Linked DNA regions of Homo sapiens: region 2 is linked to region 1. The links come from fine-mapping of genetic effects on gene expression. A gene starts in region 1. The other region holds a variant in brackets. All regions are shown on one strand. Distances are from middle to middle. Region 1 holds the start of AGBL5 (AGBL carboxypeptidase 5). Region 2 overlaps RAB10 (RAB10, member RAS oncogene family).

Evidence for each region.
Region 2: its variant is fine-mapped to the expression of AGBL5 in testis (GTEx, PIP above 0.99).

The regions. Positions count from the first base shown.
Region 1 is chr2:27,042,497-27,056,590 of GRCh38, reverse strand. AGBL5 (AGBL carboxypeptidase 5) reads right to left here and starts at 4,923. Exons shown (of 15, transcript NM_021831.6): 1 at 4,798-4,923; 2 at 3,418-3,678; 3 at 3,018-3,189; 4 at 2,532-2,695; 5 at 1,784-1,961; 6 at 1,338-1,516; 7 at 453-909. The coding sequence starts at 3,632. AGBL5-AS1 (AGBL5 antisense RNA 1) reads left to right here and starts at 6,327. Exons shown (of 2, transcript NR_046730.1): 1 at 6,327-6,411; 2 at 6,587-6,908. TRY-GTA2-1 (tRNA-Tyr (anticodon GTA) 2-1) reads right to left here and starts at 5,809; the gene lies at 5,721-5,809. It overlaps TRA-AGC8-1 (tRNA-Ala (anticodon AGC) 8-1), which reads right to left and starts at 5,377; the gene lies at 5,305-5,377. RefSeq lists silencers at 4,423-4,472, 4,493-4,932, 5,336-5,630, 6,333-6,542 and enhancers at 4,669-5,168, 5,483-5,712, 5,883-6,172.
Region 2 is chr2:26,112,844-26,127,849 of GRCh38, reverse strand. RAB10 (RAB10, member RAS oncogene family) reads right to left here. Exons shown (of 6, transcript NM_016131.5): 4 at 617-706. Among named protein-coding and RNA genes, the nearest start is that of GAREM2, 53 kb to the left of the region's middle. The variant A/G (reference allele first, on the strand shown) is at 8,571.

The DNA of each region.
Region 1 (14,094 bases):
GAGACAGAAGGGACAAGGTGCAAGGAAGAGATAGCAAGTATGTGACCATGTGACTTAATACACAGCAGATACCATCACAACCATTAACAGTAATCAGTGCTGCCTGAATTCTCAGTTTGACATTACTTCTAGGTGTTGGGAAGCAATTCTTTTTTTTTTAAGCTTTTAGCTTCCTCCCTCCAACAATGCAAAATTTTCCTTCTCTGGATTCCCAGACTCTAGCAGACTATAATGCAGTTAGCTTTCCTTAATAAAAGGTCATGATGTAACAATTGAGACATTATCCCCCTGTGCCATCTCTTCTTGGCCCTTCAAAGCTTTTTCAGAGGTAGTCTACACAGGCCTTCCTTCCAGAAAGCTACCTAAGGCTATCTTCCTTCTGTTCATGGCCTAACCCCATCTCCTAACCTGTAACACTTCTCACACTCACATGACATTCTTAGGATTCCCACCTGGGTGCTCTCATCACTAAAGCTGTTTCCGTACATGAAGCAGCCCCTTTTGGAAGCATGTCCATGCAGGTCCACATAGTAAGCAACGCCACTCTCTTTGGGGGGGATGGTATCAGGGGCTGACTCTTCAAGCCCCGCAGACTGTTGTGGCATAATCCACACACTGTTGAGCTTCTGTTCTGCTGGCTCTGTTTGTTTCCAGGCTTCAGCGTTATGCCTGTCAGCTGAGTGCCCACACTGAGCTTCATTTTGGAGATTGTTGGCTTTCTCCAGGTCAGAAACAGGAGCATCAGGAGGGAGACAGGAACTGGGCTGGTGCTCAGAGGAACTCTGGGAGTTCAGACGAGAGTGCACATGGTGGTAGAGAAGCACAGCTTTGGCCCCATAGATGGCCGGGTGCAGGACGGCATCAGGCTTCAGGTACTGACGGTTCAGATTCACTCCACGTGAGTCTGTGCTGTAGGAAAACAAGGACTGAAGCAGGTTCTAGAGGACTGGGCCAGTGAAGGAGACACTAGTGTAGATGAAAAGGAGACCGTAGGAGACTGACTTATCAAATGAGAGGCTGAAGCTATGTTAGGAAAGAAAGAATTGAAGACAGGGCCTCTCTTTGATCTGCTGTCACCCTTACCATAGAACCCTAAGGAGCTTCCTCAGGGTAGCTGCCTCCACCCAGATGGGCCTGCAGTCATCCTAGTTTGGTTCCTTTCTGGGAGTGCCACTAGATATGATCTCATGCTTTCTCAGGAAGATGAGATGGGCTTGCCTTTATTAGGGTGCAAGAGGACTGGGAACACAGAAGCCAGAAGGCTGACAGAATTTCACTGAGATGCAGGGCATGAGGGGAAATGGGAACAGTCCAGACAGGCTGGGGAAGCCACTTACCGGTAGTGTCCCCGGACCACACCATCGGGGTTCAACATGGGAATCAGCTTAAAGACGAAGAGGCGACGGAGGGTTTGGGCCCGGGGATCATCAGGTCGGAGGATGAAGTCCAGAAAGCCATTGAAGACAAAGCTAGATGGAGTCTCCCCTGGGTGTACTCTACTGCTTAAGAAGAATATCTGAGGTAGAGAGGAGAGCAGACATTAAGTCAGTTACCCTGTAGTTCTACTTTGACAGTATATGGGGGGTGTCATGGATGAGGCAGGAATAGCCGCTGGATTTCCAGCTGGCTGAATCTGCAAGTGGAGCAGGGGCCATCACCCTTGCCGCACGCTGCGGGCGGAGGCCATGTCCAAGATGCCTAGAGATAACATAGTCTTTAGCTATAAACAGTACCTGGTGCTAGAGAAAAGCCAAAGAACTACCTTTATGCTATTTCCACTCACCCTCTTGCCTGCGAAACGGAATGGTCGAGGGGTGCTGGTATCAGGAAATAGCTGCTCTAGACGGGGCTCTCGATCTTCTCGAAGCCCATGGCAGGAAGTGATCGTCAGCAGATCTACACGAAGTCCATCCAGAGAATAGCAAAGGAGCTCCCGATGGTAATAGATGGTATCCAGGGGGCTACAGGGAAAAAAAAATTAAGCCAGGAGAAGTCCCTAAAGTCCTAGTAAGAGGTAGGCCTTGTCACCAGCCCAGGATCTGTAAAATCTGGTCCTTCACCCTAACCTTTGGGGCCTTATAGTCCCTCACAATGTTAAATGAGGCTAAGGATTTGAGTGGGTTTACATTGCCAGAATGAAGAGTACAGGACAGGGTGAACTTGTTGTTCCCCAGTTTGTGGCTTCCTAGAATAGATTACTTAATGTAGTCGGAGTTGTTCTCCGTGGGGGCAGATAAAAAAGGTATACTGAGTCACATAATGCTGGCTAAACTCTGGATAATTAATGGGAGCTGGGCTAGTAAGAGGTCTGAACTGGGCAGGTGAAAGAGTGGAGGGCAGGTGTCGATATGCTGAGATCAGGGTCATACAGAAACATAGTTTTCAAAGGTACCCAAAGTCCTGTCTGTACATTCTGTACAGAAAAAAGACGGATGAAAGTATGGTTCAGAGCTCTAAGAGCAAATTCCAGAAGTAGTGGAGGTGCTGTCTGATCCAGGACTGTGTGGCAGGAGTAAGAATGGGGCTGGCACCTGCTATGGGTAGGGTGGTTCTCCGGAAAGCGCTGGTCTAGCTGGTTTAGCAGTTCCTGGCAGTCACTGTAGGAGAAGGGGTAGCAGAAGGCGAAGAAGGTGGTGGCCCCACGGCCCTCCACGAAACGATGAACAAAGGATAACACAAACTGCGTCTCTGTCATCTGAAGAGCAGAGGAGGAAGAGGGAGGGGCAACATGCCATTGTCAGAACTGAGCTCCTACTGGGACCACCAGGAACTGACCTCACACCCTTATCACCTTTACCAACTTCCCTCCCTGTGACACTTTCTATATGAAAAGTGGCTCCTTCTAGGCTTCCTGAGGCAGGGGCTCATCTTGGACTCTAGCTAACACTGGAGAAAAAGCTGATACTTAAACCTGTTGTCCCACCTGCTTCATACTTGTATCAAGGAAAAAAAAACGCTTTACTTTCCTCTCTACTTTTAGCACCCAAGTCTTTCTTTCCTCCTCATGGAGAACTTACCTCAAAGGTGGGCCGGTCTCGAATGCGTTCCCAGCGTGGCCGGGTGGGCAGTGTGCGCACAAAGGGGGCCATGCCCTGGGAATACAGCTTGCTCTGCTTGTTCATGTTCATAATGTTGATCTTGATGAGTTTTCCTGGCATTCCTCCCCGGACGCTGAAGTAGAACCATGACCTGAGGACCAGAGTAAGAGAGAGGTCATTACGTGTGGAAGGGTTGGAGATATGGTCTGTGGGAGAGCCGGAGCCAGCCAAACTGGGAAAGGGCTATTTGGCAAGGAGAAAGGAGGGACGATGGGTCAGAAATGGACAGGGAGTATGCTGGGTATGAACAGATAAGTCAGAGGGCTAACTGAAGCATGGGTTTGGAGCCTTTTTCCACCCTCCATTTCGTTCCATATACCTGTTCCCATTCTCAAATTCCGTTTCAGCACAGTCTGGTCGGGTCCACACGTTGAATTCATAGTCAGGGGAAGAGGCAATGCCACTGGTCAGGGCTGACGCCCCACCTCCTACCCCTTCCCCATCACTGGACAAAGATTCCACCTTCTCCACGTGGGCTAGATTCCCTGAATCAAAGCGAGAACTGAACAGCAATCCCCCACAGCGCAGCTCCATGGTGGGGCTGGGAAAGCATCCTCCTGCCCCGCTCTGGCCCTGAGAGCTGGGGGAAAACAAGGGTTAGGTTAAGGAGGAAAGGGAAGACAAATCGAAGAGTTTTCTGGGTATCTCTTGATAAATAAGAGCTATTCTTAGGGAGTGCCCTATGAAACAAAAGGCTGTCTCCCTCTTAGAAAACATAGAAGTGGTCTTCCAGCAAAGGCCAAGAGAAAGCAGCATTCTGTACCCCAACACTAAGGGTTGTAAATGACCTAAAGGGACCCCATTTTACTTTAGCTTGGCTGTTCCCAAATAAAACTCAGTGGCTTAACTATGTTGAAAAACACTAAACTCTCAGCTGCTTTGCAGCCCAAAGATTAGAGAATATAATCAGAGAGGTCAGATTTTCCAAACCTAGCCAAGATACACTCACCACCATACATGGCCACCTTTAGAGATGGGCCGTTCTGGATCTCTGGCTCTGCACTCTCCAGCACAGAGCAGAGAGAGGAATCGAGGTTCTGAGTGTAAATGGGTAGTCCTCTCTCCAGCCTCTGTCCTCACAAGTACTGAGCGGACATTCTGGTGTTGCTCCCCTGAGCCCTGGAAGGGCTGGTTCTTCCTTTTTTGTTCCTACCTTATGCCTAGTATGGAGAAAAACTATAACAGTGGTGCCTCTGCCAAGCCAAAGGCTACTGGGCTCACCTAGCGACTGGAGCTCCCTTCCAGCCAGGGCATGGGTCTGTTTCCATCCCCCTCCGCCCCGTAAGCACTGCACCCTGAGAAAGCTACCCTAGTAGCTGTGGATGAGTAATGGGTGTTCTCAGCACCCCTAAAAGAGGTGGGCTGCTAGAGTCCCACTCGGGGGAAGGAGGCTGGCTTCTCCACCCTCGACTCGCGGGGAACCGTCACACCGAGCGGGCTTGCCCTGGGCAGGGTGGGACTGGGAGGCATGGAAGGGGTCGAGACGGGCTCCCGCGGCAGGGGATTAGGCAGGGAGGGCCTAGGAGTCAGAGGTGAGGCCACGGAGCTGGGCGGGGTCGGGACCGCGTAAGCCAGGTCGGGAGCGGGGTGCGGGGTGGCCTTCGAGGGGCTCGGGCTCAAGGGGCTGAGAGAAGGGGGCGGGGCCGGGGCTGGCGGGGCCGGGGCTGGCGGGGCCCGTAGTCCGCGCAGAGCCCCTCACCTCTCTCCGGGCCGGTGATCCCGCTCCCTCTCCCGCTAGCGAGGCCGCACCTTGGGCCCCGGCACCCGGGCCCTCCACCCGGGCCCCCAAAAACACCCGAGCGCCGCGGTGCCGGGACCCCGCTCTGCCAGGAAACAAGAAGTCTCTCGCCTATTGGCCGTGGCTGCAGCTGGCGACCCGCCCAGTAAAGCTCGCTACCATTGGTCAGCTCTCAGGGTTCCTCGCACGTTAGTGGGTACCTGAGCGAGTGTCGTTCGGGGACGATGGCGGGCAGGAGCGGCCGGAGGGTTCTAGCAGCGTCTTCCGGAAGACGGTTAACGGCCTGCCTGCCGGGAGGCGGGAAAGATAAAGCGGCAGAAACTGGGACTCAACTGCGAAATAAAAAGACATCGTGTGAAACTCCTTATCGCTTAACAGTCTTGTGTCTCTAAAATGAAACACGTAGCCCACTGCGCCGGGAATCCCTCCCGTTTTGTGTTCTGTAGTGTGACGGACGCAAAAGCTGAGTGGAGGATGCGGGCATCGATCCCGCTACCTCTCGCATGCTAAGCGAGCGCTCTACCATTTGAGCTAATCCCCCGCCTGCTGCTTAGTTCTTTCCCTTTGCCTTACAGGTTCACTGCACTGTTCACTGACCAGTGGATCAACCACAGTTCAGGACATTTATTTAGCAGAGTACAATACAGTGGCATCCATGTGCAAGATTCTAAAAATCAAGCATATAATCGTGTGCTTAAGCAGAAAACATTCTAAAACACGTTACCACATGTACATTGAACGCAGAAAGAGCGTTACCGTATACTACATACTACGGTGTTCCCTATGGACTGACGGCAGTACGAATGCTAAGTCACAGGAGGCCTCCAAGCCTTTCCCCTTATGGGATAATTGAATTAAATTGAGGTTAAAAATTACAGACGAAGTCCTTCGAGCCGGAATCGAACCAGCGACCTAAGGATTGCCACGCCCTATCCACTACAGTCCTCCGCTCTACCAACTGAGCTATCGAAGGCTCCGCTGCGATAAGATGCTGCTGATAGCCCTCTAATGCTTACCGCAACCTCATCCAGCCATGACCCCCGCTTTCTCCAGCTGAAGGAACCTGCCAGGGCAGGAGACCCATGGGACCTCACAGAGCTGAGAAAGCCGGAGACCCAAAGGCAAGGAAAAGAAGCTGCCCAAAGTCCGGGTTCTCAGGCCAGAACGGAGGCCACACCGGCCCTGAGCTTCCCGGCTTTTTAACAAAATGTTCCCAACACCCCGCGGTGGTTTCTCCTGGACCGCGAACGCCGAGCCCGCCGCCGCCTCCTGGAGCTCCGGGGCAGCGCTTGTGCCGCGGTACCTGCACTCACAGGGGCTTTGCGACCGCGACGCGCAAACCCTGCTCGAGAGCCGATGGGCCACTTTGGCTGCTCCTGCTCCACATTTCCCTTGGCTTCTCCGGACGTGCTCTCCTGACGCGAACGACATTCGCTCGGCCAATTAACTCAGGTTTTGTCAGGCTCTATTCGTCCTGACCAGTGCAAGAGAGACGGCGACCGCGGGGTGCTGCAGGCTTCGGCGCGGCGCATTATCGGGCTGTGCCGAACCCCCCGGGCCGCCCTGGGATCGCGGGCCTGGCGGCGTGGCCCGAGGGCTCGGGGAGAGGGCTACGCGCCAGGAGAGGGCGGCGGGGCTGCAGTACAGGCTTTCCTGCCCTCGGAAGCGCTCGCAAGCCTGGGGGATTCCCCTGCGGTAGACCTGGGATGGTGGGCGGCGCGCGGCCGGGTAGGTCCCTGCAGCCTCCGAGGCCCACGTGAGGTCGGGGTCGGGGCGGCTGTACAGTGCCCAGCACAGGCCACTGGCCTCCCTTGTGGGTCTTTGCACAGGTCCGCTTACTCTCGGAAATCTTGGGTTCCCCAGGGCCGGGGAAGGGTCTTCTGCCTGGTCTGGGGCCCCTCCCCCGACACTGTGGATGTCTAGGTGTCCCGGGTGGGGTCAAGGAGTGACCCCACGGGTTCCCCCATCTTTGTCCCTATCCAGCTCACACCTTCGCCTGTCTTTTGCATGTGTTTTTTCCACAACCTTTTGTTCACCGGGTTTTTAACAACAGAAATAAACCTAACCCCCAACTCCTCTGTGAAGCCCTGCTTGGTCGTCCTGTGGGGTGGGTGTGCCGGAAGACCTGGCCTCAATTTCCAGCTCTGGGCCAACGTCCTGTGCTACCTTGAGCCAACATCGCCCGCGAATCCAGGTCTGGTGATGCTTTCTAGCCCCTTGCAGCTCCAACATTTGATGGGTTCTCTCGGGCTGAGCTTTAAATCCGAAGTTTCTAGATATAAAGTTGTGTCAACATTTAGATAGAAGAATATAGAAGATCTGCATAGCTTTTATTATTCAATATCAAAAAATCACATTCATGGCCAGGCGTGGTGGCTCACACCTGTAATCCCAGCACTTTGGAAGGCCGAGGTGGGCGGATCCCCGGAGTTCAAGAGTTGCAGACCAGCCTGGCCAACATGGTGAAACCTGTCTCTACTAACATACAAAAATAATTAGCAGAGGATGGTGGCGCGCGCCTGTAATCCCAGCTACTCCGGAGGCTGAGGTGGGAGAATCGCTTGAACTCGAGAGGCGGAGGTTGCAGTAAACCGAGATCGCGCCACTCCAGCCTAGGCAACAAGAGCGAAACTCCGTCTCAAAAAAAAAAAAAAAAAAAAAAGCAGCCGGGAGTGGTAGTGAGCTCCTACCACTCCGGTAATCCCCAGCAACTCGGGAGCCTGAGGCAGGAGAATCGCTTGAACTTGGGAGGCGGATTGCAGTGAGCCTAGAGTGCGCCACTGCACAACAGCCTGGGAGACAGAGAGAGACTCTGTCTCAAAGAAAAGGCCACACGCGGTGGCTCACGCCTGTAATCCCAGCATTTCGGGAAGCCGAGGCGGGTGAATCACCTGAGTTCAGGAGTTCGACACCAGCCTGGACAACATGGAAACCCCTTCTCTACTAAAAATAAAAAATTAGCCGGACGTGGTGGCGCATGCCTGTAATCCTAGCTACTTGGGAGGCTGAGGCAGGAGAATCCCTTGAACCCAGGAGGCGGAGGTTGCAGTGAGCCGAGATCGTGCCACTGCACTCCACCGTGGGCGACAGAGCGAGACTCCGTCTCAACAAACGAACAAACAAACAAAAACCTCTCAACAGAAAGAAGTCCAGGATCAGAAGACTTCCATGTGAATGCTACCAAACATTTAAAGAATTAACACCAGTCCTTTTTTTTCTCTCAGATCACTAAATGAAGGTAACACCAATCCTTTCAAACTGTTCGAAAGAATAGAAAAGAAGGGAACACTTTTTAATTGATTATATGAGGCCAGCATCATTCTGATGGCACAGCCAGACCAAAAGACCACAAGAAGACTACAGATCAACATCCCTTATGAATATTGATGCAAAAATCCTCAACAAAATACGAGCAAACTGAATCCAATAGCATATTAAAAGGAGAAAACCATGACCAAGTTAGACTTATTGAAGGAATGTAAGGGTGTTCAACATAAGAAAAATAAATAAATGTAGGCCGGGCCTGGTGGCTTACGCCTGTAATCCCAGCACTTTGGGAGGCCCAGGTGGGCGGATCACCTGAGGCCAGGAGTTTGAGACCAGCCTGGCCAACACAGTGAAACCTCATCTCTACTAAAAATACAAAAATTAGCTGGGCATGGTGGTGCACGCCTGTAATCCCAGCTACTCGGGAGGCTGAGGCAGGAGAATCACTTGAACCCAGGAGGCAGGGGCTGCAGTGAGCCGGCCACTGCACTCCAGCTTGGGAGACAGAGGAAGACTCCATCTCAAAAAAAGAAAAAAAGAAAAATAAATCAATGTAATATACCACATTAATAAAATGAAGGAAAAAAACTACATTATCTCAATTGATACAGGAAAGGGTGACAGAATTCATCACCCTTTCATGAAAAGTAGAAACTCAGAAAACTAGAAATAGAAACGAACTTCCTCAGCATGATAAAGAACATTTATGAAAAACCCACAGCTAACATAAAACTCAACGGTGAAGGTCAGGAACAACCACTAAGGTCAGGAACAAGACAAAGATGCCTACTTTCACTGTTGCTACTCAACATTGTACTAGAATTTCTGGCCAGAACAACTAAACAAGAAAAAGAAATAAAAAGCATCCAACCTAGAAAAGAAGAAATAAAACTATCCCTATTTGCAGACTATATTGTCTTATATATAGAAAATACCAAAGAATCTACCAAAAAACTATTAGAAGAAAAAAAAACTATTAGAGAAAATTCAGCAAAGTTGCAGAGAACAAGATCAACATGCAAAAAAACAAATTGAGCTTCTTTACACCAATAATGAACAGTCTGAAAGAAAATTAAAAATGTAACTTCTGGGCGTGGTGGTACATGCCTGTAATCCCAGCACTTTGGGTGGCTGAGGTGGGAAGATGGCTTAAGCTCAAGAGTTCAAGACCACCCTGGGCAACATTGTGAAACCCCATTTCTTAAAAAAAATACAAAAATTAGCTGGGCATAGTGGCGTATGCCTGTAGTTCCAGCTACTCAGGAGGTTGAGGTGGGAGGATCACCTGAGTGCAGGGAGGTTGAGGCTGCAATGAGCTGTGATCAAGCCACTGCACTGCAGCCTTGGTAACAGAGTGAGACCCTGTCTCAAAAATAATAATAATAAAATAAGGCCGGGTGCGGTAACTCACATCTGTAATTCCAGCACTGTGGGAGGCCTAGGCGGGAGGATCACTTGAGGCCAGGAGTTTGAGATCAGCCTGGCCAACAGGGAGAAACCCTGGTCTCTACTAATAGGAAGTGGTGGCTTACATCTGTAATCCCAGCTACTCGGGAGACTGAGGCAGAATTGCCTGAACCCAGGAGGTGGAGGTTGCAGTGAGCTGAGATGGCGCCACTGTACTCCAGCCTGGGCAACTGAGTGAGACTCCGTCTCAAAACAATAAAAAGTAAAATTAAAAAGAAAATAAGAAAAATATTTACTACCTGGAAACTAAATCTTTCTCTTTGGTGGGAGGCATCGTAACTTAAAATATGTGTAGTAGGCTGGGCGTGGTGGCTCATGCCTGTAATCCCAGTACTTCGGGAGGCCAAGGCGGGCAGATCACGAGGTCAGGAGATCGAGACCATCTTGGCTAACACAGTGAAATCCTGTCTCTACCAAAAATACAAACAATTAGCCGGGCGTGGTGGCACATGCCTGTAGTCCCAGGTACTCGGGAGGCTGAGGCAGGAGAATTGCTTGAACCCGGGAGGCGGAAGTTGCAGTGAGCCAAGATCGCGCCACTGTACTCCAGCCTGGGTGACAGAGTGAGACTCCGTTTCCAAAAAAAAAAAAAAACAAATGTGTAGTAATTTCCATGGAGCTGTCTGGGACAGACTGGATATCTCCTGGCCTTCCAAGTGAGGTGAGCTGTTAATAATAGCACCCACTCATATATCTGAAGAGTATATCTATGGATGAAGTCTAGGGTATTTGGAAATATATAAACTATGAAAGGTGTAAATATGTTTTATTGTAGATAATGTATAAGATAGCTATTTAAAACAACTGTAAAAGCCACAGAGTGGGAGAAAATATTTCCAAAAGACATATCTAATAAAGGACTGTTATCCAAAATATACAAAGAACTCTTAAAACTCCACAATAAGGGCAGACACAGTGGTTCACACCTATAATCCCAGCACTTTGGGAGGCAGAGGCAGGAAAATCGCTTGAGGCTGAGAGTTTGAAACCAGCCTGGGTGACACAGCAATGTCTACAAAAAAATTTTTTTGAATTAGCCTGGCGTGGTGGTGTGTGCCTGTAGTCCTAGCTACTGGGGAAGCTGAGGTGGGAGGATTGAGGTTGCAGTGAGCTATAATTGCACCATTGCACTCCAGCCTGCGTGACAGAGCAAGACCCTGTTTCTTAAAACCAAAACAAACAAAACAAAACAAAAAACCCTCAGCAATAAGAAAATGAACAACCCAATTAGAAAATGGAGAAAAGATCTGGACACCTCACCAAAGAAGATATACAAATGGCAAATAAGCATATGAAAAGATGCTCAGTTTCACTAGGGAATTGCAAATTAAATATCTTCATCCACCTATGAGAATGGTGAAAATCCAAAATACTGACAAAACCAAATGAAGATGCATAGTAATAGGAACTCTAATTCACTACTGATGAGAATGCAAAATGGTACAGCCACTTTGGAAGACAGCTTGATGTTTTTTACAAAACTAAACATACTCTTATCATATGATCAATTGTGCTCCTTGGTATTTAACTAAACGTGTTTGAAAACTTATGCCCACACAAAAACCTAAACTCAGAGGTTTATAGCAGCTTTACTCATAATTGGGAAACTTGGAAGCAACCAAGATGTCCTTCAGTAGATGAATGGATACACTGTCGTACATCCAGACAATGGGATATTATACAGTGCTAAGAAGAAATGAGCTATCTCGCCATGAAAAGACATGGAAGAATCTTAAAGACAAATTACCAAATGGCCGGGTGTGGTGGCTCATGCCTGTAATCCCAGCACTTTGGGAGGCCGAGACAGGTGGATCACTTGAGTACAGGAGTTTGAGACCAGCCTGGCCAGCATGGTGACACCCTGTCTCTAGCAAAAATACAAAAATTAGCCAGGGGTGGTGGCACGCACCTGTACTCTCAGCTACTTGGGAGGTTGAGGCAGGAGAATCGCTTGAAACCAGGAGGCAGAGGTTGCAGTGAGTCGAGATTGCACCACTGCACTCCAGCCTGGGTGACAGCGTAAGACCCTGTCTCAAAAAAAAAAAAAAAAAAAAAAATTACCAAATGAAAGAAGCCAATCTGAAAAGGCCACATAGTATGATTTTGACTATATGGCATTCTGGAAAAGACAAAACTGGAGAGAGTAAAAGATCAGTGGTTCCTTCGGCTCTGGGGGAAGAAGGGAGGGAGGAATAGGTAGAGCACAGGAGATTTTCATGGCAGTGAAACTCTTCTATATAATGGTGTATACATGCTATTGGACAGTTATCAAAACCTACAGAGTGTACAACGCAGATAGCGAACCCTAATGTAAGCTATGGACTTACATTATGGACGATGTGTCAATGTAGGTTCATTGATTACAACAAATGTACCACAGCAGTATGGGATGTTGATGGTGGGGGAGGCTGTGGTGGGGGCGGGTTGGGGAGGAAATATATGGAAACTCTCACTCAATTTTGATGTGAACCTAAAACTGCTCTAAAAAATAGTCTATTCAGGCCAGGCATGGTGGCTCATGCCTGTAATCCCAGCACTTTGGGAGGGCAAGGCGGGTGGATCACCTGAGGTCAGGAGTTTGAGACCAGCCTAGCCAACATGGTGAAACCCCCTCTCCACTAAAAATACAAAAGATTAGCTTGGCGTGGTGGCGGGCACCTGTGGTCCCAGCTACTTGGGAGGCTGAGGCAGGAGAATCACTTGAACCTGGGAAGCGGAGGTTGCAGTGAGCCGAGATCACGCCATTGTACTCCAGCCTGGGGAACAAGAGCAAAACTCTGTCTCAAACAAACAAAAAAAAGTCTATTCAAAAATTAGTAAGTGATGTGCTAACACAAAAAGAAGTTATATCAAGGCACATCCAACAACACATTCAAAGTCAACATTTGTATTAATAGGCAGAATAGTCAATATTTACTAAATATTCACTCATACCCTGAACAGTGGACACTCCCTCCAAAATCCTTCTTATACCTCAAGTAGAGCACCAAAACTGCCCAGTATAAAGGGAATACACATAGGGAAAAGCAAGGCCCTTTCTCCCCTCAACAACTGTGAAGGGTATGTAGTAAAAACAGATCACTCTAAGTGTCCACTTAAATTTAAACTCCTTTAGGTGAGGTAAGACAACAAAATGCTCAGAGGTCATTGAACCACTGAAATGTCTGTATAGGGCCGGGCACGGCGGCTCATGCCTGTAATATCCCAACACTTTGGGAAGCCAAGGTGGAGGATCACTAGAGACCTGGAGTTTACTGATTATATGAATCAATGAACCTATAATCAATGGGACCAGCCTAGGCAACATAGTGAGGAGCCATCTCTACAAAAAATTTTTAAAAAAGGAGGCGGGCATGGCACGCATCTGTAGGCCCAAATACTCGGGAGGCTGTGGTGTGAGGATCATTGAGCCCAGGATTTTGAGGCTGCGGTGAGCTATGATCACGAACCACTTCACTCCAGCCTGGGCAACAGGGCAAGACCCCGTTTCTTTAAAACAAAAAACAAATGCCTGTGTAATTGACACTGGGTCATTCTGTAACAGGGCAGGGCAGGTGTGCCTGGCTCTGTGGGAAACAACCCGCCCTCTTTATGGTGGTGGCATTTTGTGAATGGACTGACAATGTAGCAGGCATGAGCTCAGCAACACTATCTGCCTAGTGACATCCATCGTAGTAAGTCAGGCTACCCATCAAGCTGCCCTGCTCTAGAACTGAAGTGTGGATTGGATACAAATAACCAGAGAAATCCAGAAATCTGCTGGAGACTTAGGAAAACGAAAGGATGTTTCAAAGTGAGTCATGCATATTATTTTCAAGTCCACAAAAGAACTGGTAATAAAGTTAGTAAGAAATAAACATACTCATAACTGCCCTTCAGCTTTATGGTGTGTTATCGGTTGAACTTCAGCTGTGTGGAGTTACTGTCCAGATGTGTGACTCTCTGAGGTGTCAGCTCCTTTTGGTTCTTCCAATAACAGCAATAGTTACAGTGTGACTGCCCCACCTGTCAGCATCACTGTCCTATGCTGGTTCAATTTACTGGCCCCGCTTGGACTCCTGTTTGTTGACAGCTCTGCAAAAATGAAATGTCTGGACATCTGGTTTTGCTTTAATGCAGAGCAGGTGCGTATTGGACTAGTCCACCACACAGGAAAAATTTCCGACAATTTCAACATTGGGTCAAAAAACTGTATCTATCGAATAAAGTCAATTAAGCTGTCAGTGTTCCTGTAAGTAGAGACCACAATTAATCTAAGTTGATGAAAAATGTTGCTCCCCAGGATTTTAGTGTCAGAAGTTAAATGAACCCAGCAAGGTAAATATAGTCACACATTAGAAGCCAACACAGCACTTGTGGCATCCTTGGTTCGCTGGATGCAGCCTTGGACTTCTACAACAGTTATCACCGAACTTGTCCTCCCTGTGCCATTGTCAACCCATTCTCACAACTGCCACCTTTCTCCAACTCACCTTGAACACAGGCCAGTTCTCCTGCCCAGCAGTCCTAAGACTTTGGCCCTTT
Region 2 (15,006 bases), 930 kb after region 1:
CTAAAACAGAAACAAAATATCATCATAAAATTATCAAGCATGGGTTGCCAACTGCTGACTTTAACAGCTTAAATATTAATCTTATTCTGAAGGCAGTGGTCCCAACTAGAATATATAACACAGAATATTTCAGCAAGTCAAGCTCTTTCATAAAACAAACAAAAGAAAAGTAATCTCCTTACCCCAAAAGTTTATTTCAGATATTCTAAGTCAGATACTTCACACTGGGGGCAAACTTATGAGAAGCTCAACCTGACTCCTCAGGGTCTAATTTCTGCTCACCATAGGCTCCTGATTGTCACATTTTAGAACCATACTAATTGATACATTTCCTTAAAGTCCTAAGTTTAAAAACCGAGGATTAATGACTTATATTTTTCTCTCTTTGTAGTTTAAATAAGGCTAAAAATACTATGGGCACATTTGATTCTCCCATACATGTTAAATATGCACTGAAAAAAAATTCACTCAAATGATAAAATATTATTTCCAACAAGCATTTTAAAAACTATGTAATTAGCTTAGTGTGTTCGATCACTATTACTATAAAAATAATCAAAAGTAGCATTACCTTTACAAAGACAGAGCAGAGTATCAGTTTAATTCAGATTTTTACCTGTTCTCCTTTTCCTTTAGGTACAACTCTTTTGTCGTCCATATCACACTTGTTTCCTAGTAACATTCTTTCCACATCTTCATTGGCATGCTAAAATGAAATAAAATTTTACTTTTACATACTACCATGAATTACGGCTTAACAGTCTTTAAAAGTGACTTTATTCTCTCAATTTAGAGGGTCATTTCTATAGCTTTGAAGTTTTAAAGCAGTCACCCTAAAACTACTCCATACTAAAAGCCTACACAAATTCTTAGATTACCTAGCAAAAGAAACGCAATTCCCAAGACATATCCATGTCAAATACTATTTCCTCCCTAAAGGAGGCTGTCTACTTTCTAGGTATGTTCTTTCTTACCAAAAGAGAAGATACAAGCAAAGAAACTTGCATAATCTAAATCCAGGCTGGATCATTTCAGATTTTATAATGCATACTACCCTATAGAAGCCTTAATTAAACATTTTATAGAGCCTTAAACTCTCAAATAGCTGTGCTGCTATGGCACAAGGAGGTCCATGCAGAAAAATCAGTTAAAAACAAGTGGTTGTCCCCTTAAGATCCCAATGACAATTTTTGCAGAAATAGAAAGATCTATCCAAAAATTCATATGGAATCTAACATCAAAAGAATCTCTCTTTTTGAGACAGAGCCTTGCTCTGTTGCCCAGGCTGGAGTGCAGTGGTGTGATCTGGGCTTCCTGCAACTTTCGCCTCCCGAGTTCAAGCGATTCTCCTGCCTTAGCCTCTTGAGTAGCTGTGAGTAGCTGGGACTACAGGTGTGTGTACTACCATGCCAGCTAATTTTTGTAGTTTTCTGGTAGAGATGGGGGGTTTTGCCATGTTGGCCAGGCTGATCGCGAACTCCTGGCCTCAAGTGATCCACCCCCATCGGCCTCCCAAAGAGCTAGGATTACAGGCATGAGCCACTGAGCCCAGCCAAAATAATATTAGCTGGGGGAGTCAAATTTCAGAACTTACTGCAAATCAAAAAGTGTGGAACTGGCATAAAGACAGATACACAGACTAATGGAATGGAATAGAGAGCCCAGAAATAAATCCTCACATACTTAGTCAAATGACCCTCGACAAGGATGCCAAAATCAGTCAATAGGGAAAGGACAGTCTTTTCAATAAATAGCACTAGGAAAACCAGATATCCACATGCAAAACAATGAAGCTGGATCCTTATTTTAAACCATATAAAAAAATTAACTTGAACTAGATCAAAGACCTCAAACTATAAAACTCTTAGAAGAAAACATAGGGAAAAGCTTCAGGACACTGGATTTGGCAATGGTTTCTTTGACATGATACCAAAAGCACAGGCAATAAAAGAAAAAGTAGTTAAACTGTACTTCATCAAAGTTAAAAACTACTGTGCAACAAAGGACGCTATCAAGAGAATGAAAAGACTACCCACAAAAAGGAGGAAATATTTGTAAATCATGTATTTGAAAGGGAATAATACCTAGAATATATAAAAAACACCTAAAACTCCTAACAACAACAAAAAATGACAGCACTTTGGGAGGCTGTCAGGAAAATTGCCTGAGCCCAGGAGTTCGAGACTAGCCTGAGTAACACTGTGAGACCTCATCTCTACAAAAAATTTAAAAATTAGCCAGGCACGGTGGTGTGTGCCTGTAGTCCCAGCTACTTAGGAGGCTGTGGTAGGAGAATCACTTGAGCCTGGGAAGTTGAGGCTGCAGTGAGCCATGATCATCATGCCTCTGTACTCCAGCCTGGGGAACAGAGCAAGAACCTGTCTGGAAAAAATTTAAAAAAAAAAAAAAAAAAAAGCAAGCAAAGGATTTGAATAGACATTTCTTCAAAGAAGATATACAAACAAACAATATGCACATGAATAGATGCTCAATATCACTAAGATTAGGAAATGCAAATCAAAAACCACAATGAGAGATACCACTACATACCCATTAGTATGGCTACTATTAAAAAAACAGAAAACACATATTGGCGAGGATGTGGAGAAACCGACACCTTTGTGTACTGTTGGTAGGAATGTAAAATGGTGCAATCACTGTGGAAAAGTCTGGTGATTCCTCAAAAGGTTACACACAGAATTATCATATGATCCAGCAATTCCACTCATGGGTATACACGCAGAAGAATTTAAAGCAGGGACTCAGATATTTGTACACCAGTGTTCACAGCAACATTATTCACAATAGTAAAAGGGTGAAAACAACCCACATATCCAACAATGGGTGAATGAATAAACAGAACATGGCATATAAAAACAATGGAATATTATTCAGCCTCAAAAAATAAACAAGTTCTGACACATGCTACAATGTAGATGAACCTTGAAAACTTTATGTTAAATGAAGTAAATTACTTACAAATTGAACAAATACTATATGATTCCACTTATATGAGGTACCTATAACAGTCAAATTCATAGAAAATAGAATGGTGACAGTTGCCAGGAGATGGGGAAAGGGGGAGACAGAAATCATTGTTTAATGGATGCAAAGCTTGAGTTCAGAAAGATGAAAAAGTTCTGGAAATGGATGGTGGTGACGGTTGCACAACAGTAGAATGTACTTAACACCACTGAACTATACACCAAAATAATAGTTAAAATGAAAATTTCATGTTGTATGTATTTCACCACAATTTTAAAAAGTATTCAAAAACAACAATAGGCTGAGCACGGGGGCTCATGCCTGTAATCCCAACACTTTAAGAAGCTGAGGCAGGAGGAGCACTTGAGCCCAAGAGCTCAAGGCTGGAGTGAACTATTATCACTGCCACTGCACTCCAGCCAGGGCAACAAAGCAAGAACCTGTCTCAAAAAAAAAAAAAAAAAAAAAAAAAAAAGCAACAACAACAATAAGAAAAACAACAGCAACAAAACTGCCAAATGGCTGCGGTTACTTCATTTCCTGTAGCTATAAGAAAAAAAAAAACTAGGAAAGTTATAAAATATGCTGATTTAAAACAACATACAGTTGACCCTTGAACAATGGGGGTAAGGGTATACCATGTATAACTTTTACTCCCCAAACACTTAATTAGTAACAGCCTGATGCTAACCAGAAGTATTATCAGTAACAGTCGATTAACATATTTTATATATGTATTCTATACTGTATTCTTACCATAAAGTTAGAGAAAAGAAAATGTTATTAAGAAAATCATAAGGAAGAAAAATATATTTACTATTCATTAAGTGGAAGTGGATCATCATAAAGGTCTTCATCCTCAATGTCTTCAAATTGAGTAGGCTGAGGAGGAGAAAGAGGAGGGGGTTGGTCTTGCTGTCTCAGGGAAGGCAGAGGCAGAAGAGGTAGAGAAGGTGGAAGGGGAGGCAGGCACACTCAGTTTAACTTTACGGAAAAACATTGTAATTTCTTTTTTGCTTTTTCATTTCTTTAAAAATATTTCTATACAAAACCAATCCTTCTTTCATCATTTGCTTCAGTTTCAGTGCCTGTATCACACAATGGTCCATGTTGTACAGTAAGTCTAAAGCAGTCTTGAATAATCAGAACCCTTCTGCCAGATTGTCTACAGTCAATTTGTTTTCTGGCACTACTTCTTTGCCTTCTTCCTTATCGTCCAACGCTGGTTTGGAAGCACCGGCATCTTCATTAAATCATCTTCTGTTGATTCCTCTGGTTGATGTCTATTAGCTCTTGTCTTATCCACAGTCTCTTTCATAAATTCCTTGACTGGCTCTGCTACAAATCCTGTGAAATCATGCTCAACATCGGTACACAGTTTTCTCCAGCAGGAAGTTACTGTTTTGTGCTTGATGGCTTTCATGGCTTTTTCTATAACGATGGCATCTTCAGCGGTGTAATTCCTCCAGATTTTCATGATGTTCTATTGAGGTTAGAGTACCGTGTGTTATTAACCTTAAAGGTCCTCATGATCCCCTGATCTAGATGCTGAATTAGAGACTGTGTTCGGGGGCAAGTAGACCACTTCAATGTTTTCGGTGTTAAACTCATGGGGTTCTGGGTGGCCAGGGGCACTGTCCAACATCAAAAGAACTTTAAAGGGCTGTCCCATAATGGCAAGGTATTTCCTGATTTCAGGGACAAAGTATTGATGGAACCAATCCAGAAAAAGGATTCTCAGTGTTCAGGTCTTCTTGTTGAATGATCAAAAAACTGGCAGCTTCAAAAGACTTTTCCCTTCAGGTCTTGGGGGTTAGCAACTTTATACGTAAGGGCAGTCAGTCCTGATCATAAACCCAATTGCATTTGCACAGAACAGTAGTTAGCCTATCCCTTCCTGCCTTAATTCCCTGTGCTTTCTTCTTTTCCTAACACTCATGTCCTTTGTGGCCTGCCCCCCTCCCTGCCACCCCGAGAATAGGACACTTTTAACTGCATTAAAGACTTGTTCAGCGGTGCCCAGGAACTTGTCTGCTGTGTCTTAGTCAGCAGAAGCTGCTTCTCCTGTTAGCCTGCCATTTTTAGGCCAAGCCTCTTTCTAAAATTATCAAACCATTCTTTGCTGGCATTAACTCCTCTAGCTTCTCTTCCGTTTTGCTTTAAGTTGTCATATAATAACTTCACTTTTTCTTGAATATCATAGTCTACAAGTATGCCCTTTTTTTTTGTTTTTTTTTTTGAGACAGAGTCGCTCTGTCGCCCAGGCTGGAGTGCAGTGGTGTGATCTCAGCTCACTGCAAGCTCTGCCTCCCGGGTTCACACCATTCTCCTGCCTCAGCCTCCCGAGTGGCTGGGACTACAGGCGCCCGCCACCACGCCTGGCTAATTTTTTGTATTTTCAGTAGAGACGGGGTTTCAACGTGTTAGCCAGGATGGTCTCGATCTCCTGACCTCGTGATCTGCCCGCCTTGGCCTCCCAAAGTGCTGGGATTACAGGCGTGAGCCACCGCGCCCAGCCTACAAGTATGCCTTTCTTATAGCAATCCTGTACCCACATAAGAGCTGCATTTTCAACATGAGATAAAAAGGTATTCTGTAAAAAGTGCAAGGTTTCACACCTCCTGCTGTGGCTGCAGTGATGGCTTCACAAATTTTCTTTTATTTAAAATGGTCCTTATGCTGGATTAATTTATCTTGAAATAACGGGCAACCACAGCTGCAGACCTCATTCTACAGTACATATTAAGCAATTCAATTTTTTCTTGTAATGTCATGACTTTTCTGTTTCTCAGGATTGCTTCTGGCATCACTAGTGGCACTTTGTATAGGTCTGATGGTGTTATTCAAGGTTTATGGTATTGCACTAGACACGATGAAAACACGCAAGAACCACAAAAGACCTCTTTTGATTGCAATATGGGATTTACTGGAGACACAAACTGTTCACGGGGAGATGATCCACATCACATGGTGTTTTAAGCAGACACTTGGAAACATACGAGCTCACCAAAATAGCAACAGGAGGTGGCTACAAAATTATCACAGTAGTACAGTATGTATTAGTTATTTTTATGCAATTATGATTTAATACTGCATCTCTGTTACATTTCTCTTGATGCAAAAGGTGCCTTGTATGGGCTCTGTGTGTTTGAGTGTTAATAAATTTAAACTTTTAATAATAGATCTGTGTATGTTTTATGGTAGTAATAAAATAGACTAGTATCTACATATACTTTAGACATTCATAATATACTTAACTTTTTCTTAATTTCCCCCCCGCCCAATATTTCTAGGTTATGTGGCTTGTCTGTGAGTTTTTCAAGTTGTTGCAAGTCTCTAACATTTTTTCCAAAAGATTTGTTTTTAAAAACCTGTTTATAGAGCTGGGTGTGGTGGCACACACCTGTAATCCCAGCTTCTTGGGAGGCTGAGAAGGAAGAATCACTTGACCCCTGGAGTTTGAGACCAGCCTGGGCAACACTGCGAGTCCCCATCTCTTTAAACAAAAATATCCATGTGTAAGTGAACCTGCAGTTCAAGGGTCAATGACAGTTTAAAAGGGGGTAGACAAAGGTGGGATTAGGGAGGAAACAACTCTTTTGTTGCAAGGACGATACCCTTAGTAGAATCACAAGCTTAACAAAGAAAAATTATACCGCATGTGGTGGCTCACGCCTGTAAAGCCAGCACTTTGGGAGGCTGAGGTGGGTGGATCACATGAGGTCAGGGGTTCGAGACCAGCCTGGCCAATATGGCAAAACCCTGTCTCTACTAAAATTACTAAAATTAGCCGGGTGTGGCGATGCACGTCTGTAATCTCAGCTACTTGGGAGGCTGAGGCAGGACAATCACTTGAACCCAGGAGGTGGAGGTTGCAGTGAGCTGAGATGATACCACTGCACTCCAGCCTGGGTGACAGAGCAAGACTTTGTCTCGGGAAAAAAAAAATTATAATATACTATAAAGAAACTCGCTGGCTGGATGCGGTGGCTCATGCCTATAATCCCAGCATTTTGGGAGGCCGAGGCGGGCGGATCACGAGGTCAGGAGATTGAGACCATCCTGGCTAACACAGTGAAACCTCGTGTCTACTAAAAATACAAAAAATTAGCTGGGTGTGTTGATGGACGCCCTGTAGTCCCAGCTACTCAGGAGGCTGAGGCAGGAGAATGGTGTGAACCCGGGAGGTAGAGCTTGCAGTGAGCCAAGATAGCACCACTGCACTCCAGCCTGGGCAACAGAGCGAGACTCCGTCTCAAGAAAAAAAAAAAAGAAACTCCCTATTTAGGGATTCCATGGTCTTATCTGAATTTAGTGCCTCTTAATTTATGTTACTGCTAAAACAAAGGCAACTTGGCAAATATCCAGTAATAAGCAGCAATATACCAGGTGCTCCTAAAATCCTGCCATGTGCTAAAAGTAAGAGGCATTTTGATCTCAGAATCTAAGGATGGACTTCGGGGACATCAATAATTCCAAGGAGCACACATAAAACTTTGCAAGTTGTATAAGTACATCATTCTGGTAAGATTCTAATTTCTCAAAGGGGTCCATGATCCCAAAGAAGTACAGAAGCATGGTTTTAAAAGCTCCCAGCTGCTAAATGGACAAATTATCACAGTGACCTGTAATAATCTACCCACATCCTAAACACTGCAAGTTACCAGAGCCACTAACATGAACCTCCACTCAAAGAGAAGATAAATTATCTGTAGCTTTAGAAGTCACTGTTCTACTAAGAACACCTGTAAGTTAGGTGCAAGCAGGCTGATGGAACGAAGCCGAAGCCAATAAATAAATGATCAATGAAGTATAAAAAAGGGAAAATTACCTTATATATAAATTTATAAGTGTTAAGATATTTTCAGCCTGTTTTTTAAAAAAGCTTTAGCAATCAGACCACCAATTTACAACCTACTACACCTCCACGCCAACTCACATCAGTATTCTGGGGCTAGTGAGGAAATAGGTATAATTCTTTATACATGTGTACCATTTCAGAGCATAAATATAATTCTAGCTCAAAAATATATTTGAAAGTAAGCCTGCTGGGCACAGTGGCTCATGTGTATAATCCCAACATTCTGGGAAGCCAATGCAGGAAGATTGCTTGAGCCCAAGAATTTGAGGCCAGCCAGGGCAACACAGTAAGACCCCATCACCACAAAAATAAAAATTAGCCAGACATGATATAGCACGCTTGTGGTCCTAGGTACCTGGGAGGCTAGGCTGGGAGGATAGCTTGAGCTCAGGAGGTAGAGGCTGCAGTAAGCTGTGATTGTGCCACTGCACTCTAACCTGACAGAGTGAGACCCTGTCTTTAAAAAGAAAAAAAAAAAAGCAAAGCTAAGACCTGAAAAGACTTGGGATACACTTCTTTGAATAACAAAACACAAAAACTAAGACAAAGGTCAAAATAGTATTATACAACTCTTTTTAAAATTTATTTTTTTTTTGAGACAGGGTCTCGCTGTGTCACCCAGGCTGGAATGCACTGCTATAATCAGCTCACTACAGCCTTGATCTCCTGGGCTCAGGTGATCCTCCCACCTCAGCCTACCAAATAGCTGGGACTACAGGTACTC[A/G]CCGCCATATCCGACTTTAAAAAATAAACTTTTTTAGTAGAGATGAGGTCTTGCTATGTTGCTCAAGCTGGTCTCGAACTCCTAAACTCAAGCAATCCTCCCACCTTGGATTCCCAAAGTGCTGGGATTACAGGTGTGAGCCACCGTGCACAGCCCTATACATCCTTACTTGGATGATCTTACTAACAATAAGCAGCAAGCATGATGAGGTTAAAGACTTCACTGCTGAGCCAGGGGACCAATAAAACAGCACTCAGAATACACAGAACTTCTCTCATACATTTTCTTATGCCAACATGCACATTAATCTTTTTTCAGTCGGATACGCATTGTGTTTACAACCACTTACGGCAAAAACACCCAAAGAAAGATTGGTAGTTGCACCACACAGACATATCCATAAAGAGACATGTTTATGCAGGAGGACACATATCTCTATGAATCACACATGCAGACTGTAACTAGCTTAAAATATGGTTAATTTTCCCAAGGTACTAATACAGAGAGGTGCATTTAGACCAAGGTTTCTCAACTTCGGCCATACAGACATTTTGGGTCAGCATTCTGGGTTAGCATTCTTCTTGTACCCAAGCTGTGATAACCAAAAATATCTCCACATATTGACAAATGTAAAACTGTCCTTGACTGAGAATCACAGATTTAGAGATCACTGTCTATCATTAAATAGAAACAACAAATACTTTAAAAGGATGTTGAAGTTTAATAATAATGAAACCATTCAGAAACCAATATATATTTCACAAATATAAGCCTCATAGTTGTTCTGATATTTGACTAGGTACATGAGAACCTGTTAATTCCCCACCCCCACCCCACCCCCGGCCTTTGTTTTTTTTTAAAGCACTTATTTGCCCGGGAGGTCTGGGCTACAGTGGGCTGTGTTCACACCACTGCACTCCAGCCTGGGAAACAGTGAAACCCGGTCTCAAAAAAAAGGGGGAGGAGGGGACGTTACTTTGTAAAAATTGGAGCTAAAAGAACATCTTTTTGGCCGGCGTGGTAGCTCACGCCTGTAATCCCAGCACTTTGGGTGGCTGAGGACGACGGACCATGAGGTCAGGAGTTCGAGACTGGCCTGACCAACATGGTGAAACCCCGTCTCTACTAAAATTACAAAAATTAGCCAGGCGTGGTGGCACACGCCTGTAATCCCAGCTACTCAGGAGGCTGAGGCAGGAGAACCACTTGAATCCGGGAGGTGGAGTTTGCAGTGAGCTGAGATTTGCGCCACTGCACTCCAGCCTGGGCAACAGAGCAAGACTCCGTCTCAAAAAAAAAGAACATCTTTTTATATCTATTAGAGAAATAATCTGAGACTTGGGTTTCCTAAGGATTTGTCCTTCCTAAGCTAAGTTATTTGGTCCAAAGTACGTTTCTCTAAATATCTCTATAGCCAAGGTAGTTATGTTCCCCAGTTACCCAAAGTAAATTAACATATATGATCTCTCTTAAATTGGAATCCACTGCACTTTTTTATCAGTCCCATCTTTATCTGGGTAACTTCTCATCTCCTCAGGTCTCAGTTTAAAGTCGCTCCTCTCACCTCCCAGGCTATGTTAGTTAGGTACTTGTTTTATTTACATGTTAACAACTTTGTACTTCCTAACTCTTTTGTTTTTTTTGTTTTTTTTTTTTTTTTGAGACGGAGTCTCGCTCTGTCGCCCAGTCTGGAGCGGAGTGCAGTGGCACGACCTTGGCTCACTGCAAGCTCCGCCTCCTGGGTTCACGCCATTCTCCTGCCTCAGCCTCCTGAGTAGCTGGGACTACAGGCACCCGCCACCATGCCCGGCTAATTTTTTTTCTTATTTTAGTAGAGACGGGGTTTCACCGTGTTAGCCAGGATGGTCTCAATCTTCTGACCTGGTGATCCGCCAGCCTCGGCCTCCCAAAGTGCTGGGATTACAAGCATGAGCCCCCCGCACCCGGACCTTCCCAACTCTTAACACTAAGTAGGGGATCATTTATGTTGTTTACGCTGCATCCCCAGCCTAGTTCAAAAACACTGATCCCAAGAGTTGTCCCTTGATGTAAAGTTTCACCTCAACAAGTTTCAAAACCTTCATATAATAACTCCCCCTCTTGGACATTCGCAACACACTAAAGCATATAAAAATTGAATAAAAATACCTATTTAACGTATTTGTCCACAGAATGTCATATGCCAAGTAATACTACTAAAAAGTAGAACACGCTTCAGAAAACACAGATTTAAGAGTATATAAATTCTTCTTATCTCTATTCCAAGGAACAGAAAACTTGTATTTGTCTCCTTTTGCTAAAGAAATACAAAGAGTGGCACAGTGGCACATGCCTGAAGTCCAGCTAACTCAGGAATTTGAGACCAGCCTCCTGGGCAACACAGCAAGACCCTCTCTCTTAAAAAAAGAAAAAGAAAAAAAAAAAGGCCGGGCGTGGTGGCTCACGCCTGTAATCCCAGCACTTTGGGAGGCCGAGGTGGGCAGATCATGAGGTCAGGAGATCGAGACCATCCTGGCTAACACGTTGAAACCCCATCTCTACTGAAAATACAAAAAATTAGCTGGGTGCGGTGGCGGGTGCCTGTAGTCCCAGCTACTCGGGAGGCTGAGGCAGGAGGATGGTGTGAACCCAGGAAGCAGAGCTTGCAGTGAGCTGAGACAGCGCCACTGCACTCCAGCCTGGGCGACAGAGCAAGACTGCGTCTCAAAAAAAAAAAAAAAAAAAAAAAAAACACAAGACAGAAAGAAAGAAAAGAAATACAGTCTCCATGGGGAATGGCTGATTGGTTCCAGGACCCTACTTCCTTTATCAAAATCCATGCATACTCAAGTCCTGCAGCCAGCCCTGTGAAACAGACATATACAAAGAAGGCTCCACACCAACCTATATTATATGTGAGTATCAAAATTCATATTTTCAATCTGCCTTTAGTTGAAAAAAATGTATATTAAGTGGACCTGTGAGTCAGGCATGGTGGCACATGCCTGTAGTCCTAGCTACCAGGAAGGCTGAGATGGGAGAATTATTGGAGCTCAGGGTTTTAACACCAGCCCGGGCAACATGGTGAGACACCCATCTCAAAAATATTTTTTAATTAAAAAATATTAACAACTGGTGGGGCGCAGTGGCTCATGCCTGTAATCCCAGCACTTTGGGAGGCCAAGACAGGTAGATCACGAAGTCAGGAGTTCAAGACCAGACCAGCCTGACCAAGATGGTGAAATCCCATCTCTACTAAAAAATACAAAAAAAATTAGCCGGGCGTGGCAGCATGCACCTGTAGTCCCAGCTACTCAGGAGGCTGAGGCAGAAGAATCACTTAAACCAGGGAGGCGGAGACTGCAGTGAGCCAAGATGGCGCCACTGCACTCCAGCCTGGGCGACAGAGCAAAACTCCGTCTCAAAAAAAAAAAAAAAAACAGTAATAACAACTCTACCTGTGTAGTTCAAACCCACATTGTTCAAGGGTCAACTGTAATTGTAAGGAAAGGTATTAAAGCTCAATTCAGTTTTTAAAAAAATAACAGTTTTGAGTTTATAATTTACATATCATAAAATTCACCCTGTAAAAATATACAATTCAGTGTTTTTTTAGTTATTTACGAGGCAGTTCAACTATCACCACTACTAACTTTATAATATTTTTATCACTCCCCTATAAACCTGTACTCATAGCAACCACTCTTTTCTCTCCAAACATCACCCCCAGCACCTGGCAATCATGAATCTACTTTCTGTCTCTATGTTTTTGTCAATTTGGGGCATTTTATTTAAAGGGAATCATGTAAGGCCTTTTATGTCTGGCTTCTTTCATAAGGTTTTCAAGGTTCACCCACACTGTACCAAGTATCAGTCCTTCATGCCTTTTAATGGCTGAGTGATGTTCCCTTATATGAATATACACATTTTATTTATCCATTCATCAGTTGATGGATGTTTGGGTTGTTTCTGGTTTTTTTTTTTGGCTATTGTGAACAATGCTGCTATAAATACTTGTGTACACCTTTTGTGGATATATATTGTTAATTCTCTTGGGTAAATACCTAAGAGTAGAACTGCTGGTCATAAGGTAACTGTATGTTTAACCATTTTGAGAACTGCCAAAATATCTTCCAAACCAGCTGCATCTTTCTACAATTCTACCAGCAATATATGAGGGTTACAATTTCTCTCCATCTTTGTGAACGCTTGTTAGAGTCTGTCCTCTTTTCTTCCATTCTGTGGGTTGGCTTTTTACTTTCTAAATGGTAGAACCTTCAAAGCACAAAGGTTTTAAATTTGATGTAGCCCAATTTATCCATTTCTTTTCTTTTGCCACTTCATGGCTTTAGATCTTACATGTAGGTCCATGATCCTTTTTGGTTTTTTTTCTTTTTTTGAGACAGAGTCTCACTCTGTTGCCCAGGCTGGAGTGTAGTAATGCAATCATGGTTCACTGCAGCCTCGACCTCCTGGGCTCAAGTGATCCCACCTCAGCCTCCCAGATAGCTGGAACTACAAGTGCATACCACCATACCCGACTAATTTTTTTTTTTTTTTTTTGTATATTTTTGTAGAGATGGGGTTTCACCATGTTGCCCAGGCTGGTCTCAAACTCCTGGGCTCCAGCGACCCACCCACCTTGGCCTCCCAAAATGTTGGGATTACAGGTGTGGGTCACCATACCCAACCTTTGTGGTCCATTTTGAGTTAACTTTTCTGTATGGTATGAAGTAGGTGTCTAACTTTCATTCTTCCACACAAGGATAGCCAGTTTTCCCAGCACCATTTGTTGGAAAGACTATTCTTTTGCCCATTGAATTGTCTAGCCATCTTGTTAAAAGTCAACTGACCATATATGTAAGAGTTTATTTTTAGACTCTCAATACTATTCAATCAATCTTTATGACTATCCTTATGTCAGTATCACAGTGTTTTGATTATTGTGGCTTTGCGGTTAAGTTTTAAAACCAGAAAGTATAAATCTTACAACTGTGTACTTCCTTTTCAAGATTATTTTGGCTACTCTGGGTCCCTTGCCTTTCTATATTAGTTTTAGGGTCAATTTGTCAATTTCTACGGGGGGGAATTTTTAAAAAAGCAATTGGGATTTTGATAGGGATTGCACTAAATCTGTAGATCACTTTGGGTAGTAATGCCATCTTAATATTGTCTTCCAATTCACAAATAATGGCTATCTAATTATTTAGATCTTTAATTTCTTTCAACAATATTTTGTGGTTTTCTGTGTTCAAGTCTTACACTCTTTTGGTTAAATTTACTCCTAAGTATTTTTTGCCTTTTGATATTATTACAAATGGAAATTTATTCTCAATGTAATTTTTAGGTTATTGCTAGTGTACAGAAATAAAGCTGATTTTTATATGTTGATCTCATTTCTTGTAACCTTGCTGAACTTGTTTATTAGTTCTAAGAGTTTTCTGGGTATATGTTTGTGGGTTCTTAAGGATTTTCTATATAAAATATTCTACCATTTATAAATAGTTGTTTCACTCTGGATGGCTTTTTTTCTTTCTTTCTTTTTTTTTTTTTTTTTAGCTCTGGCTGGAACTCAGCATAATGTTGAACAGAAGTGGCCAGAGTAGATATTCTTGCCATGCTCTTGATCTTAGGGGACAGGTACAATAATAGCTGTGGTATTTTTATAGATGTCACTTACAGGATTAAGGAAGTTCTTTGCTATTCCTAGTTTGTTGACTTTTTTTTGAGACAGAGTCTTGCTCTGTCGCCCAGGCTGGAGCACAATGGCACGATCTTGGCTTACTGCAACCTCCACCTCCTGGGCTCAAGCGATTCTCCTGCCTCAGCCTCCCGAGTAGCTGGGGTTACAGGTGTTTGCCATCACACCTGGCTGATTTTTGTATTTTTAGTAGAGACGAGGTTTCACCATGTTGGCCAGGCTGGTCTCGAACTCCTGACCTCAGGTGATCCACTTGCCTCGGCCTCCCAAAGTGCTGGGATTTACGGGTGTGAGCCACTGCGTTTGGCTGACTGTTTTAATCATAAAAGAATGTTGGATTTTGTCAAATGTTTTTTCTGTGTGAACTGAGATAACTGTATGGTTTTGTCGTCTATTAATATGGTGTATTACATTGACAGGTTCTGACCCTTGCATTCCTGGGTAAGTTCCTCTTGATCATGTTATATAATCCTTTAATACACCAGAGAAACAAGATTTCCTCTTTCTTTCTTTTTGAGACGGAGTTGCACTCTGCTGCCCAGGATGGAGTGCAGTGGTGCAATCTTGGCTCACTGCAACCTCCTCCGCCTCCTGGGTTCAAGTGATTCTCCTGCCTTGGCCTCCTGAGTAGCTGAGACTACAGGTGCCCACCATCATGCCCGGCTAATTTTTTGTGTTTTTCATAGAGACAGGGTTTCACCATGTCGACCAGACTGGTTTCAAACTCCTGACCTCAGGTGATCCGCCTGCCTCAGC